Regions from separate parts of the Homo sapiens genome. Here region 1 is linked to region 2. The links come from fine-mapping of genetic effects on gene expression. A gene starts in region 2. The other region holds a variant in brackets. All regions are shown on one strand. Distances are between the middles of the regions.

What was found.
Region 1: its variant is fine-mapped to the expression of ATF1 in whole blood (INTERVAL, PIP above 0.99).

The regions. Positions count from the first base shown.
Region 1 is chr12:50,808,783-50,817,118 of GRCh38, reverse strand. It overlaps ATF1 (activating transcription factor 1), which reads right to left. Exons shown (of 7, transcript NM_005171.5): 4 at 7,530-7,663; 5 at 2,927-3,109; 6 at 2,680-2,839. Among named protein-coding and RNA genes, the nearest start is that of TMPRSS12, 30 kb to the left of the region's middle. The variant T/C (reference allele first, on the strand shown) is at 3,198.
Region 2 is chr12:50,760,854-50,769,189 of GRCh38, reverse strand. It overlaps ATF1 (activating transcription factor 1), which reads right to left and starts at 5,089. Exons shown (of 7, transcript NM_005171.5): 1 at 4,883-5,089. RefSeq lists enhancers at 1-283, 4,226-4,325, 6,626-7,494 and silencers at 4,746-4,835, 5,056-5,135.

The DNA of each region.
Region 1 (8,336 bases), 48 kb before region 2:
AACTGTACAAGATAAGGCCTAATTTCCAAAATGGCTGCATCAATTTACACTCCTATAGTAGTATCTATGAATTCCTGACCATTGTTCCAAATCCTTGCCAACTCTTGGTTAGACTTTAAAATTTTTGCCAATTGGGTGGGTATAAAGGGTATCTAAATGTGTAGCATTAATGTGTATTTCTTTGATTACTAATAAGGCTGAGTAGTCTTTTATATGATTATTAACTACTTGTGTGTTTTTTTTTGTTTGTTTTATTTTTGAGACAAGAGTCTTGCTCTGTTGCCCAGGCTGAAGTACAATGGCGTGATCATGGCTCACTGCAACCTCTGCCTCCAGGTTCAAGTGATTCTCCTGCCTCTACCACATCTAGCTAATGTTTTAAATTTTTTTTAGAGATGGGGTCTCCCTATATTGCCCAGGCTGGTCTCAAACTCCTGGGCTCAAGTGATCCTCCTGCCTTGGCCTCCGAAAATGCTGGGATTACACGTGTGAGCCACCACGCCTGGCCTGTATGGTTTTTTCCATTAAAATGTTTCTGTGCATATTTATGGAGCACATGAGAAAATCTGTTACATGTATATAATGTGTAGCGATCAAGTCAGGGGATTCAGGGTGTCCATCACCTGAGTATTAATAGGTTTTTGTTAAGGGTGGTCATCCTACTCTGCTATGAAACACTGAATTTATTCCTTTTATCTTACTGTGTATGGGTTTGTACCCTTTAACTCTCTTCATCCTCCTCCTTGCCCCTCACCGTTCCCAGTCTCTGTTACCTATTTTTCCATTCTCTCTTTTTTCTTGAGATAGGGTCTTGCTCTGTTGCCCAGGCTGAAGTGCAGTGGTGCGATCATGCTGCCTCAACCCCCTGGGCTCAAGCAATCCTCCCACCTCAGCCTCCCGAGTAGCTGGGATTTTAGGCACACGCCACCATGCCTGGCTAATTTTTTATCTTTTGTAGCAATGGGTATGTTGCCCAGGCTTGCATTGAACTCCTAGGCTCAAGTGATCCTCCCGCCTCGGCCTCCCAAAGTGCTGGGATTACAGGCATAAGCCACCACGCCCAGCCCTATTTTTCCACTCTCTACTTCCATGTGTTCAAATATTTTAGCTCCCACATATAAGTGAGAATGTGATATTTTTTCTTTTTGTGCCTGGCTTATTTCACTTAAGATACTGACCTTCAATTCCATCCATGTTGCTGCAAATGACATGATTTAATTCTTTCTTATCCATTTATCCACTGATGGACACATAGTTGATTCTATTAGCTATTGTGCGTGAATAGTGCTGCAAGTAAACTTATGAGTACAGGTATCCCTCTGATATATTGATTTCTTTTCCTTTGGGTAGATTTCTATTTTTCGTTTTTTGAGAAGTCTCCATACTGGTTTTCATAGTGGTTGTACTAGCTAATTTTAAATTTTTGGGGGCTGGGTGCAGTGGTTCATGCCTGTAATCCCAGCACTTTGGGAGGCTGAGGCAGGTGGATGGATCACTTGAGCCCAGGTCTGAGACCAGCCTAAGCAACATGGCAAAACCCCACCTCTACAAGAAAAAAAAAAAAAATTAGCTGGGTGTGGTGGTATACATCTGTAGTCTCAGCTACTTGGGAGGCCGAGCTGGGAGGATCACTTGAGCCCTGGAGGCAGAGGTTGCAGTAAGCCAAGATTGTGCCACTGCACTCCAGTGTGGGTGACACAGTGAGACCTTGTCTTAAAAAAAAAAATCACAAAAACCAAATATAACTTTTCTACTTTTTGAACTTTTTTGTTAAAAATTAAGACACCAACACCAACATTAGCCTAGGCTAACTAGCCTAGGGTCAGGATCATCAATATCATTGTCTTCCACCTCCATACCTTATCCCACTGGAAGGTCTTTAGGGGCAATAACACACAGGGAGCTGTTATCTCCTATGATAACAATGCCTTCTTCTGGAATACCTCCTGTAGGGGCTGCCTTGAGGCTGTTTTACAGTTAAAAAAATTTTTTTTTTTGAGACAGAGTCTCACTCTGTTGCCCAGGCTGGAGTGCAGTGGCGCAATCTCAGCTTACTGCAAGCTTCGGCTCCCAGATTCATGCCATTCTCCTGCCTCAGCCTCCCGGGTAGCTGGGACTACAGGCGCCCGCCACCACGCCCAGCTAATTTTTTTGTATTTTCAGTAGAGATGGAGTTTCACCACGTTAGCCAGGATGGTCTCGATCTCCTGACCTCGTGATCTGCCCGCCTCAGCTGGGATTACAGGCGTGAGCCACCATGCCTGGCCTACAGTTAACTTTAAAAAAAAAAAAAAAAAAGTAGAAGGTATACACTTTAAAATAATGATTAAAAGTATAGTAAATTCATAAACCAGTAACATATTAACTTATTATAGTATCAAGTATTATGTTCTATACATAATTGCATGTGCTACACTTTTATATGATTGGCAGCACAATAGGTTTGTTTATACCAGCATTGCCACAAACGTGAGTAATGTGTTGCACTATGACATTAGCACAGGACTTTTTAGCTCCATTATAATTTTATGGGACCACCGTCATTCATTTATGTGGTCCATTGTTTACTTAAACATTGTCATGCAGCCCATGACTGTATACAGTTCCAGTTAACATCTGGTTATGTTGTGAGATTTGTAAAAACATTACCCATTCTGGTACTACGATTTTACTACCTACCTGTTTTTCATTAACCTTATTTCTCTTTTCAATTGGGGGTCATCTGTCTTAGTTGTCTGAGAGGTGAGAGTCACAGGAGATGTCATCACCACAGTTTGTGGCAGAGAAGTAGCTGAAGGTGTAGTTCGGATCTGATATGTTTGCATATCTCCTGATGCAGCTAGATGGTAAACAAGAGTGAATGAGTTAGTTAGTAAGTGTCTCTGACAGTGTTAGGAGACTTTCTGTAGACAGAAAGCATACTTACTTTGTACGACCACCTGATTGCTGGGCACAAGTATCTGCTGTCCATCAGAGGTCTGTGCATACTGAAGAATAGTTGTACCTTGCTGAGTACTGCCTGAATTTGTCATGGTTAATGTCTGAAGTCCCTGTACTCCATCTGTGCCTGGACTTGCCAACTGTAAGGCTCCATTTGGGGCAATGGCAACTTTAATCAAAAAGAGAAAATAGCTATTGTAAGGTTATATAATACACTAATTCAAAGGAGTGGCAAAAAGCCCACAAACACTATTTAC[T/C]AAAACAGGTATGAATGCACTTCTACTTGGTAACTGCAGACTACTTTACTTTAGGTGAACTACATGTAAAAGGAATAAAACAGCATTTCTTTTTTTTTTTTCTTTTTTGAGATGGAGTCTCGCTCTACCGCCCAGGCTGGAGTGCAGTGGCACGATCTCGGCTGGCTGCAACCTCTGCCTCCTGGGTTCAAGCCATTCTTGTGCCTCAGCCTCCCAAGGAGCTGGGATTACAGGTGTGCGCCACCATGCCCAGCTGATTTTTATATTTTTAGTAGAGACGGAGCTTCTCCATGTTGGCCAGGCTGGTCTCAAATTCCTGACCCCAGGTGATTCACCCGCCTCAGCCTCCCAAAGTGCTGGGATTACAGGCATGAGCCACTGCACTTGGCCCCATGATAGTTAATTTTTAAGAAAAAATAAAAAGGAAACATAAACATAGTTTGTAATTTTGAGTCAAAAGCATTAAAAATATTATTACTTTAAAATATTTCTGAATAGATAACATGCTTATGGAAAAAATTCAATAGAATAAAAGGTTATATAATGAGAAAATAAGTCATCTTTATATGGTTTCTTAGCTTCATTTTCTAGTGGTACCACTGTTAAATGTATTACATGTTATTAAGATATTTACTTAAGTGATAGTTAAGAAATGTAATCTATTCATTTACTTCCTAGTGAAAATCACTAATAAAGATAGCAGAAAGCCACTGTGTAGAAAATACTACTTAGCTCCCCACAAACATTTTTTCACTGAATTATACCTGTGTTCATGCTTTCTCCTCAGCCCTTAAATGCCCATAAGGCATGATCAAATAGAAAACATTTTAGCATTATTCAATTCCCATATACTCTTCAGAATCGAATGCCTCATCTCTGTACCCTCTTTTCAGATTACAGTTATGAAACATTTTTTTTTCCTTTTATGCTTTGGCTACCAGGAAGCCAAAATACATGTATATGTATATGTGTGTGATGGAAAAATATTTTTTTTCACGCATTCATAATTATCCCTCCCCAACTGCCCCAACTTTAATTTATGAGTTTCAAAATATTTTTTTAAATGTTAGATACAGGGATATGTTGGCTATTTTTTTTGAGACAGGGTCTCACTTGTCACCCAGGCTGGAGTGCAGTGGTGTGGTCCTGGTTCACCACTGCACTCTACCTCCTGGGCTCAAGCAATCCTCCTACCTCAGCCTCCCAAGTAGCTGGAACTATAGATGCACACGGACATGCTCAGCTAATTTTTAAATTTTTTATAGAGATAGGGTCTCCCTATATTGCCCAGTCTGGTCTTGAAATCAAGTGATCCTCCCACTTTGGCCTCCCAAAGTGCAGGGATTACAGGCGTGATCCAACACGCCAGGCTGAGATTTGCTGTGAAGTTATATTAGCAATTAGTTTCAATCTTCTTCCCTGCAACACATTATTATATACATATATACACATACACATTTATTTATATAAGTATCAACATAAATAAAATTAAAGGTCCCATTATCTATCTCTATTTCATTTTCCCCCTTTTACCGCCATCCTGAGATAATTATTGTTTTTGGTGCACATCCTTCCCATTATTTTCCTGTGCTTATACAGACTTATATACTTTTGCCATTATGTTCAGTGGTGAAAACTGCAATTTCTTTTACACCAACCTAATATATCAAAATACATACCTGTAGATGCAAATGTTTTGATATTAAATATGTGTGAATACATATTTTCATTTTTGCAACATATCTTCCTGTTCTTAACATGTGTATTTACCTGTTAATGTGCTGTATTTATTCTAAAACTGAGCTGTCTGATAGGGTATTAGCTCCATGTGGCTATTTAAATTAACTAAAATTAAACAAAATTAAAATTTCAGTTTCTCAGTCCCACCAGCCATATTTCAAGCACTCAACAGTCACACATGGTTTAGTGGCTACTATTCTGGGACAATGCAGATATAAACATTCCCATTATCATACGAAGTTCTATTGGCCTATGTTGCCCTAAATACTAGTTTGTACTACACTTATTTCAGTGATAACATGTGAACCTCCCCACTACCTCTGATCTCTGCTCCCAAGCTTCTTTCCTTGCAACCACTGCTCCCAGTTTCTTTCTTTCTTTCTTCTTTTTCTGAGACTGGTCTTGCTCTATTGCCCAGGCTGGAGTGCGGTGGTACGATCACGGTTCACGGTAACTTCGAACTCCCAGACTCAAGAGATCCCATTTCAGCCTCCCGAGTAGATGGGACTAGTCACATGCCATGATGCCCGGCTTTTTTTTTTTTTTTTTTTCTTCATTTTTCTGTGAAGACACAGTCTTGCTATGTTGCCAAGGCTGGTCCTGAATGTGGCTTCAAGCAATCCTCCAGCCTCAGCCTCTCAACGTACTGAGATTACGGACATGAACTACAGTGCCTGGCCCCCAGTTTCTCAAGAGGTATTCTATATATATATTATTTAATTAATTCATAACAAACAACTGAAAGCCTACTATATGCCAGGTCCTATATGTCAAGGATGTAGTTGTGAATGAAACAAAAGGTTCTTTCCCTTAAGGATCTTATATTCTAGTGGGGAAAACAGATCATGAATAAGCTAATCTATAATTACATACATACAATCTATAATTAAACTAATATGTACTGACTTAGTTATATGTAAATGCTATAAAGAAAAATATAGGAGGTTAAGGGAAACTAAAGGGAGGAGCCACATATTTGAAGAGAGTGGTCTCTTTGTGGAGGTGACACTTAAGCAGAGTAGCCACATAAGGATCTGGGGGAAGAACATGCCAGGCATGAGCAATGACAACTCCAGAGATCCTGAGGCAGAAACAAGCTCGTGTGTCTGAGGTACAGTAAGGAAGTCTGGGGTGGTCAGAATGCCACCAAGTGGCAGGAGATGAGGTCAGAGTGGTAGGCAGATCCTAAATGTAATGCCTTGTAAGATCCGGATTTTATTCTAAGTGTGATAAAATGTCACTAGAGGATTTTGGGCAGGAGCGATGTGATCTAGTTGACATCTTAAATAAATCACTTTGGCCACAGTATGGAAAACTGATTATTAGAGCAAGAATGGAAGCAAGATGACCAACTGGATGCCTACTTCAGTAATTAAGATGAGAGCCTAAACCAAGGCGGTGGTGGTTGGAGACGGCAAGAGGTGGTCAGATGGGACATATATTTTGTGGCAAGACTGAATGAAACAGATTAATGTTAGGAGTGGAGGGGGAGATAACAAATGGGCAGCACAAGTAAATTCGTTAGGGTGACAGAACTCAATCTTGATTGGCGGTGTTATACTATTCTACACATTTGTCAAAACTCATAGACTTAAACTCCCCAAAGAGTGAATTTTACTGTATATAAATCAAACAATAAATATTTTTAACGAATAGGCAGGGGCCAGGCGTGGTGGCTCACGCCTGTAATCCCAGCACTTTGGGAGGCCAAGGTGGGTGAATCACTTCAGGTCAGGAGGAGTTTGAGACCAGCCTGGCCAACATGGTGAAACCCCGTCTCTACTAAAAATGCAAAAATTAGCCAAGCGAAGTGGTACACGCCTGTAATCCCAGCTACTTGGGAGGCTGAGGCAGGAGAATCACTTGAACCCGGGAGGTGGAAGTTGCAGTGAGCCGAGATCATGGCACTGCACTCTAATCTGGGCAACAGAGCGAAACTCCACCTCAAAAAAAAAAAAAAAAGCCAGGAATGTTCTGAAAGGAATTATACTAATATAATATACAGCAATTATGTACGGAACTACATAGATATAAGAATGAACAAAATAAGGCCAGGCGCAGTGGCTCATGTCTATAATCCCAGCACTTTGGGAGGCCAAGGTGGACGGATCACCTGAGGTCAAAGTTCGAGACCAGCCTGGCCAATATGGTGAAACCTCCTCTCTACTAAAAATACAAAAATTAGCCGGGCGTGGTGGCACACGCCTGTAATCCCAGCTACTCCGGAGGCTGAGGCAGGAGAATCACTTGAATCGGGAAGGCAGAGGTTGCAGTGAGCCAAGATTGTGCCACTGCACTCCGGCCTGGGCAACAAGAGCGAGACTCTGTCTCAAAACAAAACAAAACAAAACAAAACAAAACAGTATCTAATGTTGTAGGTCTCAGTTCCCTCATACATTGATAATTGCCTATGTCACAAAGTTGTTATAAGGAGTAAATAATGCTGAAACAGTACTTCGCATTATTCCTGGCTGAAAACATCCTTTAATAATCATCACTATCAAAGTATTACAGTTTTCCTAACACCATTTCTTTCTACAGAAAAGTCAGGTTTTGTGTGTTTATAATGTGGAAACTGATTCCTATACATACTGTACTGTCCGCTGCTAGTCTGATAGATGGGAGTTGGAACAGACATAGAAGTGACAGCAGCAGAAACTCCAGAATTTTCTCCGTCTCCTTTTCTGCCCCGTGTATCTTCAGAAGATAAGTCTTTCAAAATTTTTCTGTAAAAAAAACCAGAACTCTATTAAACATTGGTAATGTGAATGACTTCACAAAAATAATTTTTTTTTTTTTTTTTTTTTTGAGACAAGATCTTGCTTTGTCACCCAGGCTGGAGTACAGTGGCGCCATCATGGCTCACTGCAACCTCTGCTTCCCTGGCTTAAGAGAGTCTTGTGCCCCAGCCTCCCAAGTAGCTGAGACCAGAAGTGTGAGCCACCACACCCAGCTAATTTTTGTATTTTCAGTAGACACGGGGTTTCACCATGTTGGCCAGGCTGGTCTTGATCTCCTGGCTTCAAGTGATCCACTCATCTCCTCTTCCCAAAGTGCTGGGATTACAGGCATGTGCCACCATGCCCGGCCACAAAAAGAAATTCCTAAAACTTTTTCAATCTCAGGTAAAAGTTATAATAATCGGGCCAGTCATGGTGGCTCACACCTGTAATCCCAGCATTTTGGGAGGCCGAGACCAGCGGATCACAAGGTCAGGAGTTTGAGACCAGGCTGGCCAATATGGTGAAACCCTGTCTCTACTAAAAATACAAAAATTAGCTGGGCATGGTGGCAGGCGCCTGTAATCCCAGCTACTTGGGAGGCTGAGGCAGGAGGATCGCTTGAATTCCGGAGGCGGAGGTTGCAGTGAGTCGAGGTCGCGCCACTGCACTCCAGCCT
Region 2 (8,336 bases):
AAACCCCACATTTCCATGCCTTCTTATAATCTTTTACCAAAAGTACATTCTATTTTCCTTACTACACACCTTACATGTAAAACTGTCTCTTCAATAGTCTCAGTTACATGTTCCAATTTTAACTTTTAGCGACTTTTACTTTTGGTGAAAACCCTGGTTAGTAAGCAATTTTAATTATGTACTAGGTGTGGAGCCTAGCCTAGGACACACCAGGCAGAAGTGCAGATAAGAGCTGACTCTCCAGCACAGCTTAGGGGCGTGGCTAACTCCACATGTCCCCAGGCCTTATCTAGAATCTAATGGCTTTAAGGTAGGGTAAATTGAACAATTTTTAAAAGTCAAAGAAACAGTTTATGACCTCAAATCATTTAACAAACTTAATATCTGACCTGCATAATTAAGATTAACATTTTTATCAATTTTAAAGATGTGTTTATTTCCTAAAGATTACTAAAGTTACATGAACTAAAAGGCATTAGTTATTTTGCTTTCAAAATATTTGATTTAAATGTTTATTTTTGTTTAAGCTGATTAATCAGAGCTCTTTTATATAAATATTACACACGACACCTATATAGCTACACAGAAAGACAGATGATGATGATAACAGTGGTTGTAAGATTTTTCATTTGCCAGTTTTTAAGTTTCTTAATTGGATTACCGGCTTCAGGGTGGAGCCCTTGGAAGAACAGGGCCACGAAAGGGGTCTCTGGTGCCTCTTGTTTTTCCCAAGGAGTCCAGGCTGTTAGAGCTTGAATATCCACTTTTAATTAAACTTATTTTAACCATAGCACTCTTTAATAAAGTCCTTTTAGAAGTTTTTATGCCAAACGGCTGGTATTTCTGGCTTTTGAATTTTATCAAAGGTAACCTCCCAGGTGCTTAGAAAAAGGAAAATATAAGACAGTTCACAGAGGAGAAGAGAATAGACAAAGTCATGCAGATATTAAACCAGAAACGACTTACTTCCTAGGTGGGTAATTGAACCTGGACTGTTGCCACGGAAGTGCAAAAGCTGGCTGGGTGCGGTGGCTCATGCCTGTAATCCCATCAGTTTAGGAGGCTGAGGCAGGTGGATCACCTGAGGTCAGGAGTTCGAGACCAGCCTGCCCAATATGATGAAACCCCATCTCTACTAAAAATACAAAAATTAGCTGGGCGTAGTGGCACACACCTGTAATCCCAGCTACTTGGGAAGATGACGCAGGCAAATCACTTGAACTCGGGAGGCGGAGGTTGCAGTGAGCTGAGATCGCACCACTGCACTCCAGCCTGGGCGACAGAGCAAGACTCCATCTCAAAAAAAAAAAAAAAGAAAGTGCAAAAGCTTAGCTACTGAGCTACAGCACAGGGCAGTCTCTGTTGACCTTCCCAGAAGGAGTCTAGAGTAGTTAATTTTGAGCTTATAAGGGCTTTTAACTATTTAATATTATTTTTAGAGCTAACTATGACATGAATCCTGAAATTCCTGTTCTCTGAAGGTGGGGACCAAAAGAAAGTACCACCACATGGTTAAAAGGTCAAGCTCCCAAGGACGTAAAACAAGGTGGAGACTTCATCCAGTCTTTTATTTGTTACAGGGACCTGCAGCCAAGTATCTTACTGACCAGCTTGCTGGGTCATCTTGAAAAGCGAGCTTACAGGTGTTCTTTTTTTTCTTTTTTTGAGATGGACATGGAGTCTCGCTCTGTTGCCAGGCTGGAGTGCAGTGGCACGATCTCGGCTCACTGCAACCTCCGCCTCCCGGGTTCAAGTGATTATCCTGCCTCAGCCTCCCAAGTAGCTGGGACTACAGGCGCACGCCACCACACCCAGCTAATTTTTTGTATTTTTAGTAGAGATAGGGTTTCACCATGTTGGCCACGGCTGGTCTCAAACTCCTGACCTCAGGGGATCCACCAGCCTCAGCCTCCCAAAGTGCTGGGATTACAGGCCTGAGCCACCGTGCCAGGCTGATTTTTTTTTTTTTAACCATTCACTTAACCATTTGTACAGTGAGAGAGAAGCCAGAAATCTGACTGGTAATACATTCTTACCCTTTTGCCAGCATCCCAGGCTTCTGGGTTCCCTTTCCCTTAGTGGTCCTAGTGTTCAAGCTTGCAGCATCATTGCCCTGGGGGCCAAGCCGTATCATAAAGGAAAATTATGTTTTTTCCATTCTGGCCAGAGCAAAATACGTGTGATAAAACAAAGACATTAGCCACTCCGCTTAGCACCCAATATCAAACTAGCAAGGCTTAAATTTGCCCCCAGATGGGCCTGTCATCTTTAATTCAACCTCCGACTTGGAGTTTCAACATGTGGCCTCTAGGTAAGATGGTTGCCCTGAGTAATAGAAAAAATAAGAAACGCAAAGTAGATAAGAAAAGTATTGCCTGTGGCAGGGTGGGGAAGCTGAAGAGCTTAGGGAGGCCAGAGAAAAGACCCACTCATTGCAGCCGACAATGAAAACCTCAGGCAGCCGCTTGTACGCAGCAAAGGGACCTTTTCCAGCAGTCCCATCAGCTCTCAAGATTCCCCTTTTATGGGGGGAGGGGGGAGGGATAGCATTGGGAGATATACCTAATGCTAGATGACGAGTTAGTGGGTGAAGTGCACCAGCATGGCACATGTATACATATGTAACTAACCTGCAAAATGTGCACATGTACCCTAAAACTTAAATTAAAAAAAAAAAAGACTCCCCTTTTAGAGAGGAAAAAGCTCCCCATGTCCCACGATCCTGTTCATGCCTAACTCTGTCACCCACAGCCATCAGCAAAGAGCGCAAGGCAGATTAATCCAAAGAGAACAGCAGTTAATATCCCATAGTGCCAAACCTGTTCTTAGCTGAGAGGGAGTTACCTGAGAGGGACTCTAACTCCCTATATCTTAGAAGGGCCTCCAACCCAAGGTCAGTCAAGCTTAAGCGTCCTTGCCTTTTATTAAGAGGGGCCTCGAACCCACTGTCTTAGGAGAGACTCCTAAACATAAATACTGGGTTTCCGCAGTATAGTCGCTTCTGTGGCCACCACAAATACGTTACAGGACCCCAACACTTACCCAAAGGTAGCCGTTGGGTCAGGGTTTCTGCACTATAGTCCCTTTGTGGTCGCCAGAAATATGTTACAGGACAGGCGTCCTGATCCAGGCCCCAACTGAGGGTTCTTGGATCTCGCGCAAGAAATAATTCAGGGCAAGTCCACAGTGCGATGTAAAAGTAACATTATGAAGAAAGTAAAGGAATAAAAAGAACGGCTACTCCATAGACAGAGCAGCCCCAAGGGCTGCTGGTTACCCCTTTTTACTGTTATTTCTCAATGATAGGCTAAACAAGGGGTGGATTAATCACGCCTCCCCTTTTTAGACCATATAGGGTAACTTCCTGACATTGCCATGGGATTTGTAAATGGCGCTGATGGGAGTGTAGCAGTGAGGATGACCAGGGGTCACTCTTGTGGCCATTTCAGTTTTGGCCGGCTTCTTTACTGCAACCTGTTTTATCAGCAAGGTCTTCATGACCTGTATTTTGTGCTGACTTGTCTCATCCTGTGACTTAGAATGCCTTAACTGTCTGGGAATGCAGCCCAGTAGGTTTCAGCCTCATTTTACCCAGCTCCTGTTTAAGATGGAGTTGTTCTAGTTCACACGCCTCTGACACCATCTCTATTTAAAAACAAACAAACAAACAAACAAAACAAAACAAAAACTGGCAAAGATAGCACACCCTATATTTAAAGTCAGAAGGGACTGCCACCTGCTGGTGATCGGGTAGGAATGGACAGATAGCTCACAGACCAAACCTAACCCTAAAAGATAACGGCAAGTATTAAAGAGCTAATACATTCGACTTTAGGGCAACAGTATTGATTCTAATTAAGACACGGAGATAACTGCATATGATAAACTCCAAGAAAAAAGAGCATTTTAGAAGAACGCATTTCTGTTAACAAAAACCTCAGGTTAAAATGCATTCTGAGACATAAATGCCTACGAACTCATCACAGGTGAGGCCAGTTTGACAAAGATGCCTGCCAGATCCACGCCGAGCTTCTGAACCCTAAAGGTTCTCAAAGACTACCAGTTGCCCAATCTCTTCAAAACACTAGCGCCACAACCAGACATTATTTCACATTGCAATCATTTCAAAGCGATTCAGCCGCCAGCTGCACGGCGTCGATCAAAGTGAGAAATGCCAGGCTTCGTTTTTTGACATACAAGATCAAAGAGAAAGTCACCCTCGGCTGGGTCGCCCATCCCAAAGGGTACAGACGCCCTTGTGTCATTCCTAGCCAGGGGTAAAGCCGCCTACTGTCCCCACTCTGTCTCCGCTGCCAGGCGCATCTCTCCAGGACTGTCTGGGGCGTGCGCAATGCCCGTGCGTCGGTTGCCCGCTAGACTGCAAGCTCCAGGAGGGTAAGGGGCGCGCCTCTTCCCTCAGGGTCGCCAGCGCCGACGCGCTTCGAGGACCCTGTCGCGGGGTTAACCAGACCCGGGCTCCGCTCGGCGGACACCGCGCCGAGGCCATATCCGCGCCGCCCTCCGCCCGGCTCCGGGCCCAACCTCGAGACCTCCCACGGAGAGCTAGCGCCTGCGACTGCAAAGGGCGGCTTCTGAGGCGAAAGCCACCCCGCGGCGGGCGGTTTCGGGCTTTACTTTTATTTGGGGGCGAGGGAAAGGAGGAGACGCACGACTGGAAGGGCGCAGCGCAGCTCTGCACCGAGGCGCGGAGGCCGGAAGCGCGGGCGGCCCCTCCCCCTGCCGCTGCGCCCCTCCCCCACCGCCACCACCGCGCGCGACCCCCACCAGGCGCGCGACCCGCGCTGCGTCCCCGCCGGCGCCACGTTCCCGCGTCCTTCCCCGCCCGGGCCACGGGGCACGTCCCTCCCCGCCCCCCACTTACCTGTGGCTGCCGCCTCGCCGCTCTCCGGGGCGGGAACTTCCACTCCCCCCTCCCAGGTAGATCCGAATTCACTACCCACTTCCCCACCCCCTCACGCAGCGGGGGACAAGCCTCCTTCTCGGGGGTCAGGCGGGGCGGGGAGAATCAGTGTCACTTAACAGCCAACTGTCCTAAGCTACCGTTTCCTCGGCAGTCAGGGCCGCTACTGGCGGCATGATCTACACAAGCCTGGGGGCGGGGGCGGGGGCGGGGGAGGGGAGGGGGGCAAAACTGAGCACTAGTGTGCGTTTGGGGTAGGCTATGGCGCTGCCTCCGCGCGGGCCGCCGTCCTGCGTCACCGCGCTGCCCACGTGACGCGCCGCCATCTTGTACGCGGTCCTGACTTGTGGCTAGGGGTTCCTCGGAACGCGTTCCTCAGGCTGCAGCGGGAGAGGGACGGTGCCTGCGGTTCCGTTTCTCCTTAGGAGCTGTACCCCACCCGCCCTACGTCCGCTTCCGGAGGCCATGAGCAGCTGGGTGCTCGCGGGGGGCGTTTTCATCGATTAGTGGCGGCGCTGTCAACTCACCTGCCAATTGACCTTGACCGACGCCGGCCCTGTCCTCTTGGAAGGAGAAATGAAGAGTGAAGGCTTTGACTTCCTCAGCTTTTTTTTTTTTTTTTTTTTTTTAGATGGAGTCTCTTTTTTTTTTCCGAGATTGAGACGGGGGTCTGTGGCCCAGGCTGTAGTGCAGTGGTTCGATCTCGACTCACTGCAGCCTCCAACCCCGGGATTCAAGCGATTCTCCAACCTCAGCCTATGGGGCAGCTGGGACCACAGGCGCGCGCTACCACGCTCGGCTTGAAGAGATGAGGACTCTATGTTGCTCAGGCTGGTCTTGAACTCCTGGGCTCAAGTGATCCTCCGCCTCGGCCTCTCAAAGTTCTGGGATTACAGGCGTGAGCCACCGTGCCCGGCCTTACTCAGATTTTTCTTAATCCCATAAAGTAACAATGAGTTGTGTCCTTTAACCCATGTGGAAGGATTTTCTACAGAAACGGATTTACAATGAGACATAACGATGTGGCCGGGCGCGGTGGCTCATGCCTGTAATCCCAGCACTTTGGGAGGCCCAGGAGGGCGGATCACCTGAGATCGGGAGTTCGAAACCAGCCTGACCAACATGGAGAAACCCCGTCTCTACTAAAAAATACAAAAGTAGCCGGGTGTGGTGGCGAATGCCTGTAATCCAAGCTACTTGGGAGGCTGAGGCAGGAGAATCGCTTGAACCCGGGAGGCGGAGGTTGCGGTGAGCCGAGATCGCACCGTTGCACTCCAGCCTGGGCAACAAGAGCAAAACTGTCTCAAAAAAAAAGAAAAAAGAAACGTAACAGAGTGTTAATAAAATGTTATGCCGTCATTTTAATGCATTACAAAAACTTCAGAATATTTTTGGGTCTACCTCTCTGGAAGGGAGTTATGCCTTATTCTTAATTTTTAAAATTTCCTTGTAAAATGCTGTTTTATGGCTTTAATGATAGTAAACGACAAAAGATAAACTTTTTTAGTATGCTCTTGACAAAAGTTCCGAAAGTTTTCTGAAATTTTACTAGTTTGAGATCCCCAATTTAGGAAACCGATTTAGTGGAGAGAGCTTTGCCTATTTTTGGCCCTTTGGGTCGGAGAATGTGATATAAAGCCGAAGATTTACTCTGCCAGACAGTCTTAAGAGGTCACTAACGTTTAGCTATTGACATTCAGCAAAAATTGTGGATTACCTATTAAATGCTAGACCAGGGGACAACTGTTATTAAGTCAGTGTTTCAGCATTACTGAAAGAAAAGTGGCCTATAAAGGTAAGGGAGAGGAAGAGTTTCTCAGATACCAGCCTTCGATGATTAACAAAGTCCAGCCTCAATCATTCTGGAATCCAGAATATTGATGGCTGGAAGGCTGGTTGTACAAGTTTATTGTTCTTTGGTGTTTGGTTTTTTCTTCCGTGGACCACAGAATGCTTAACAAAAGTTGATCAGTAAAAAGCGGGGGAGGGGCTAGGCGTCGTGGTTCATGACTGTAATTCCAGCACTTTGGGAGGTGGGGGAGGGCAGATCACCTGAGGTCAGGAGTTCGAGACCAGCCTGGCCAACATGGTGAAACCCCGTCTCTACTAAAAATACAAAAATTAGCCAGGTGTGGTGGCACACACCTGTAATCCCAGCCTCTCAGGAGGCTGAAGCATGAGAATCGCTTGAACCTGGGAGGCAGATGTTGCAGTGAGCCAAGATCACGCCACTGCACTCCAGCCTGAGCCACAGAGGGAGACTGTCTCCAAAGAAAAAAAATAAAAACCTGGAAATTTTATTGAAAAATGAAACCTTCAAAATGTGCCTTGACTACTTCTTTAGCTCCTCTTCCTTAGTGCCTTAGGTCTAAATCAAATGTTACGCTCGACCAGTCCTGGTGGCATGCGCCTGTAATCCCATCTACTGGGGAGGCTGAGGCAGGAGGATCATTTGAGCTCGGGAGTTTGAGGATACAGTGAGCTGTGATCATGCCACTGCACTCAAGCCTACATGACAGATGAGACACTGTCTCTAATTTTTTTTTTTTTTTTGAGATGGAGTCTGCCTCTGTCGCCCAGGCTGGAGTGCACTGGTGCAATCTTGGCTCGTTGCAACCTCCACCTCCCGGATTTCAGTGATTCTCCTGCCTCAGCCTCCAAGTAGCTGAGAGATTACAGGTGTGTGCCATCACAGCTGGCTAATTTTTGTAGTTTTTTAAGTAGGGACGGGGTTTCACCATGTTAGCCAGTCTTGGTCTCGAACTGCTGACCTCAAATGATCCGCCTGCTCAGCCTCACAAAGTGCTGGGATTACGAGCATGAGCCACGGCACCTAGCCTCTAAAATAATTTTTTTTAAAATTGTTTAAAAAACAACTCAGGCCGGGCACGGTGGCTTACGCATGTAATCCCAGCACTTTGGAGGGCGCGGTGGGTGGATCACCTGAGGTCAGGAGTTCGAGACCAGCCTGGCAAATATGACGAAACTCCGTCTCTACTGAAAATACAAAAGTTAGCCAGACGTGATGGCGTGAGCCTACAGTCCCAGCTACTCGGGAGGCTGAGACAGGAGAATCGCTTGAACCCAGGAGGCGGAATTTGTGGTGAGCCGAGATCGTGCCACTGCACTCCAGGCTGGGCAACAGTGAGACTCCATCTCAAAAAAAAAAAACAAAAACAAAAAACCACGACTCAGTTGACAGAGGAAAAGAAGAAAAAAAGTTATGCTTGTTCAACACTGCCCCTCAAAAATACTTCTGCTTTTCTTGTCTCTTTCTCATTGAAGTATCATAAACTGTGCCTACCAGTCTTCTGAACTGTGATAACTAGATGAAAAAAAAAAAGAGGTCTTGGTTCTGATGCATGCAGTTTATCTGAATAGTAAGTTTCATAAATCAGATGGACAGATCTTTAAT